2 separate regions of the Homo sapiens genome follow, and region 2 is linked to region 1. Evidence: fine-mapped expression QTL. A gene starts in region 1. The other region holds a variant in brackets. All regions are shown on one strand. Distances are from middle to middle.

Region 1 (2,904 bases):
GAGGCCCCCGATGGTGAGGGTGGTGCCTTGAGGGCGCACAAGAAGCAGCCGCGGAAGGCCGGGGCCAGCGCTGGCTCCTCGCCCAGGCTCCGTGGCTCCAGCGCCACAAGCGGCGGGAGGCGCAGTGGCACCAGCACGTCGAAGCTGTCGGGCCGGCGGATTTTATGTTGCTCGTAGGCGCTGCCCACCTGGATGAAGTCTCCGCGGAAGGCCAAGGCCAGCGCTCCCCCAGGAATGAGACCGGGGGACCCCCGGGCGCGGCCAGCCCGCACCAGCTCGCCCACGATCCGGCTCACGTGCGCCTTGCTGTGGCCCAACACGTGCGGAGACAGGCGCACCTCATGCTCGTAGTAACTCTCCAGCAGGATGCTGAGGCCCGGCTCTCGGAAGTGTCTCGAGGAGAAGGCGGCGTGACCCTCCAGACGGGGAGACCCGGGCAGGAAGCGCTGCCGGACAGCGTGGCGACAGCGCAGGAGGACATAGCTGAGGAGGAGCAGGACGGCCACCTTAAGCAACGGGAAGCCGCCATCCACGCCGTCGGCGGGCTCGGCCCGGGCGCCCCCGCTTCCCCGCAGGACATGGTAGAGGCACACCAGGGCGGTGCACAGGCCGGTCACCAGGGGCCAGAAGACGCGTAGATTGAGGGTGTAGTGCACCGACATGCCGGGCGCCCGGGGCGGCGGTGGCCGAGCAGCCCAGGGGGCAAGCCCCGGCGGCGACCCAAGCCCAGCATGCGCACAGCGCCCGGGCAGCCCCGCTGTCCCCGTCTCCTCCTCCGCGGCGGCTTCCCGAACGCAGGCCCGAGGGAGGCCGCCCTCCAGCTCGGCCTCCTCTCCCAGCTCAAGTGTTCCTTCCAGCTGCGGCCCGCCCTGCGCTCTCGGGCCCCGGGCCGCGCCCTGCCCCGGCTGCGCGCTGAGTCCGGCCCAGCGGCCCTCCCCGCCCGGCGCCCCCGCGCGCCGCCGTCGGCCAGCTTCTGGCCCGGCCTGGCTCGCCTCCTACCCTGGGCGGCCCTCCTGGCTCTCCCGCCGCTCCTCTCCGCGCCTGACCCTGTTACTCGGACCCCGGGAGTTTCCTCTTCCGAGGGGGAGGCGAGGCCGCGCCAGCTAGCGGGGAGGAAATGCCGGAGTCTGGAGCCGAGCGTGGAGCTGGCGAGCCGGGTCGGCCCCCTCCCGGGCCTCCGCCTTAAAGCGACGCGGGGCGGCGGGAGGGACTTCAGGACGCTCTTGGAACTGGCCTCCCGCGGCCCACCCCCATCCTCCCTCCCCGAAGGCAGAATTGGGAAGGCCCTGATTCCGGGGCGGTAGCTTCGTCCAGGGAGCCTCTGGAGTTGCGCTCCCTTGAAGTTATACTGGGACGTTGAAAAGGAGAAAAGGGCGCACAGCCAGACTGTCCAGTCCTCCCCACCCCCACCGCACAAGCTGCGGTGGCGTGGCAGGCCCTGGCACAGGAGTGGCCCTTGCCGTCTGCCGCAGTCGTCTGTTCAAACCAGTATTCACCGAGCACCTACCATGTGCCAGGTCGGAGCCACAGTGCTGGGGAAATCATAGTTGACAAGATGGACAAGGTTTCTGTCCTTCGTGAAGCTTACAGCCTTGTAAAAATGGGAATCAAAAAAGGAAGGGGCTGGGCGCAGTGTCTCACGCCTGTAATCCCAGCACTTTGAGAGGCCGAAGTGGGCGGATCATTTAAGGTCAGTAGTTCGAGACTAGCCTGGCCAACATGGTGAGACCCCCCCCCCCGCCCCCCATCTCTACTAAAAATACAAAAATTAGCCAGGCGTAGTGGCACGCGCCTGTAATCCCAGCTGTTCGGGAGGTTCAGGCAGGAGAATCGCTTGAATCCGGGAGGCGGAGGCTGCCGTGAGCCGAGATCGCGCCACTGTACTCCAGCCTGGGTGACAGAGTGAGACTCCGTCTCAAAAAAAAAAAAAAAAAAAAAAAAAGTGGGGGGAAGGATTCCACAGCAAGAAAACGCTCTAAAATAAACAAAAGTGCCCGAGGGAGTGAGAAGGTGCTGGCTACCCTGTGGAAACCAGAGGATGACAGGGGTGACATTTGGCCTGAGACTTCATCGGAACATGCTGGTTCACCCCTGTAATCCCAGCACTTTGGGAAGCCGAGGCGGCGAGAAGATCGCTTGAGTGAGGCCAGGAATTCGAGGCTGCAGTGAGCTATGATAGCATCATTGCACTCCAGCCTGAGTGACAGAGCAAGACTCTTGTCTCTGAAAAAATAAAATAAATAAAATGAAATGAAATTAAAATAAAATTATTTTCCCAGTGGAGGAAAGGGGCACAAACAGGTTCAGCTCAGGCAGGTTCAGCTGCCCCCCTTCCCCCCTCCCCCACAAGGTTACACAGCCTTTGTAGAGCTGGGCAGAAACCAAGGGGTGGAACTCCCAGGAGGGGGCCCAGGGAAGGTCTCTTCCTCATCTGCTGGGAATTTTGGGGGTCCTTTGTCTGGGTCTACATTGGAACCTCAGTCCTAGGAAGCTTGTTTTGTTTCATAACAGGGAGCACTTCCTGAAATAATCTGATCTATTTAAATAATTGTCTTTCTTTATTCACACTCATTACACCTTCTTTGCTGGCACTGACCTTTAAAGAGAGCAAGGGTGAATATATTAAAACATGTTAGAACCCAGCTGCCACCTGGGAACCAGGACTCAAAAGATGGCTTCTGGGTTGTTCCCAGTAAATCCTAAATTGGGCCCCTGAGAGCTAAGCAGATCTGCCTTCAGATCCCATCTACTAATATTAGCTATGAGATCATCATCTACCAGTCAAGATTCTTAGGTTTGCAAGTGACAGAAACACAGCTCCAACTGGCTTAAGTGCACGCACGCATAGACACACACACACACACACATTATTGTATCATGTTAACTGAGATCCATGAGGGGATT
Region 2 (2,904 bases), 27 kb before region 1:
GGTCAGGAGTTCAAGACCAGTTTGGCCAACATGGTGAAACGCCATCTCTACTAAAAATACAAAAATTACCCAGGCATGGTGGCACATGTCTGTGGTCCCAGCTACTCAGGAGGCTGAGGCAGGAGAATTGCTTGAACCTGGGAGGTGGAGGCTGCAGTGAGCCAAGACGACGCCACTGCACTCCTGCCTGGGCAACACAGCGAGACTCTGTCTCAAAAAAAATTAAAAGTTGTTTAAAAATCAGTGCGAATGTTTTCCAGGTATCTACTCTGAAGGTTGCATAAGTGAAGCAAATCCGTGTGTAGGGTTGTCAGAAAAAAAAAATACAGCAGTCCCTAGGCCAAGGAAAAACTACAGCAATCCCTAGGCCAAGCCTGGAATAGACACAGAAGTTGCAAGCATGAGTATGATGTGGGCGCTGGTATCTAGCATCTCCCAGTCCAGTATGAGTCTCCAGGTATATCCCAGCCCCCGGCGTAGTGCCTGGCACTAAGCCACAGCACCATTACTGTTTGTTGCTTGAATGAGTGGGTGCACGACTTCATTCATTCAAGGTACACTTAATTAATTACCTACTGTGAGCAAGACCTTGTTCTAGACACTACAGATGCAAACACTGTACGTTAATTACAGTGAACAAAACAGACAGACACTCCCTGCCCTCATTATAATTATCTACCAGTGTTGGGGCAGGGGAAATGAAAACACAAAAAAGTGGCTGGGTGTGGTGGCTCACGCCTGTAATCCCAGCACTTTGGGAGGCTGAGGCAGGCGGATCACCTGAGGTCAGGAGTTGAGACCAGGCTCTCCAACTTGGCAAAACCCTGTCTCTACTAAAAAATACAAAAATCAGCTGGGCGTGGTGGCAGGCGCCTGTAGTCCCAGCTATTCAGGATGCTGGGGCAGGAGAATCACTTGAACCCAGGAGGCAGAGCTTGCGGTGAGCCAAGATCGCACCACTGCACTCCAGCCTGGGTGACAGAGCAAAACTCTGTCTCCAAAAAAAAAAAAATATATATATATATATATGTGTATATATATATGTGTGTGGGTATATATATGTATATATATAAGCAAATATATGGGTATTCAGATAGTGATCAGTACTACGAGAAAAATGAAGCAGATGAGGAAATTTGGGAGTATGAAACAAGGTGGGCAGTGTGATTGCAATTTTAAAGAAGGTGTCAGGGAAGCCTCGCTGGGTGACAGTTCAGCCAAGATCTTCAGGAAGTGAGATGTGTATAAAAGTATATCCGAAGGAATAAGAAGTGTCCTGGCAGCCGTAAGTAAATATCACAGCCTGGGTGCCTTACCCAGAAGACACTTATTTCTCATAGCTCTGGAGGCTGGAAGTCTGAGATCAAGGTGTCGGCAGGTTTGGTTTCTCCTGAGGTCTCTCTCTGGGGCTTGCAGGTGGCCACCGTCCCGCTGTGTCCTCACATGGTCGTCCCTTGCTCCTGTACTGTCTGAGTCCTAGTCTATTCTTATGAGGACACCAGTCATATTGGATTAGGGCCCAACCATGTGACCTCATTTTACATTAATTACCT[C/T]TTAAATGTTCTATCTCCAAATACAGTCACAATTCTGAGACATTGGGGTTTAAAATATCAACATAGAAATTTTAGGGAATGTAATTCAGTCCATAACAGTGAATGAATGAATGAATGAATGAATGAACCAGTCTGCTGCTTTGCTTATGTGTGAGAGAGTGAAGGCAGTCAGAGAAACATGGGACAAAAGGAACAGGGGATGAGGGGCAAAAAGCCACATCAGGAGAAAAAAACAGAGATTTGACATGTGCAGTTTTTCAATTCCCTCTTGGCCAATTCAAAATATGTTTTTCCCAGCTCTAACTCTTAATTATTTCCGGAAACGGTTTCATTAACTGCTGTCCTGCAGCAGGATGCTATGAAGAAATCTCTGAACTTAGAGGCAGAAGATGTGAGTTCTGCTCTGCTGGGTGACTTTGGGGGAAGTCACTAACCTCTCTGGGCCTCCTTTCAATGGGAATGGAAATCCCTACCCCCTCTCAGAACTGCAGGAGAAGTTCAGGGAGGTAACTGGCAGGCAGATGAGGGCTTTGTAAACAGGGAAATGTAATATAAATAAAAACCTAAGGTATTGCTGTGAAGCTTGCTGTGAAAACCACTGCAGACAGCTCATGCCTGGGGCCCTCTGGTCATTTCGAAGGGAGCTTATTTATTAAACTCCAGCTTTTCCCTGGTTGTTTTCTTCAGCCCTTCAGGATGATCAGAGAGCTGGGGGAGTGCAGGGCTGGGGAGAAGAAAGAAGAAAGGAGAAGAAAGAGAAATAGATTCCACCTGAAGCACAGAGCTGGTGATTTTTGCCTCATCGAGGATTCTTGCTGATATTGACCAGCAAGATGTTGACATTGATGGGAGCTGACATTGATGGGCACCCTCCTCATTAGGCTCTGTGCTAAATCCTCCCCAGGCATCAACTCACCGAATTCCCATAACACCCTCTGAGGTTAGGCTATAATCTACCCATTTTGCAGGTGAATAAACTGAGGTTCAGAGGCATTAAGAAATTGCCCAGGGTCAATTAAGAGGCAGAACTGAGCCCAGATCTGTCAGCTACTCTCTTAACCTTGACCTACACTTCCTCATCATTCCTCAAAGTGTCCTGGCATTTAGTAGGTACTAAAGACATGTAAGATCTCTAAATTCTCTAGTTTGAATCCCAGCTTTGGCGTTTTCCAGCTGTGTGAAGTTGGACAAGTTATTTTCTTTCTCAGAGGACAAAAATCCCTGCCCTGCCTACCTGTCAACTCCAGTACTTGCCAAGTATGAGTTGGAGGCTGTTACTTAACCTCTCTGAACCTCGATTCCTGTAGCAGTAACGTGGGATAATAACAGTTGATATTCCAAGGGTAAAGCA

The links. PIP is the estimated chance that this variant, and not a neighbour inherited with it, causes the effect.
Region 2: its variant is fine-mapped to the expression of ITPRIPL2 in blood mononuclear cells (TOPMed, PIP 0.92).

Annotation. Positions count from the first base shown.
Region 1 is chr16:19,112,220-19,115,123 of GRCh38, reverse strand. ITPRIPL2 (ITPRIP like 2) reads right to left here and starts at 1,160. Exons shown (of 1, transcript NM_001034841.4): 1 at 1-1,160. The coding sequence starts at 662. RefSeq lists silencers at 599-968, 1,059-1,158.
Region 2 is chr16:19,139,547-19,142,450 of GRCh38, reverse strand. No RefSeq gene overlaps it. Among named protein-coding and RNA genes, the nearest start is that of ITPRIPL2, 27 kb to the right of the region's middle. The variant C/T (reference allele first, on the strand shown) is at 1,554.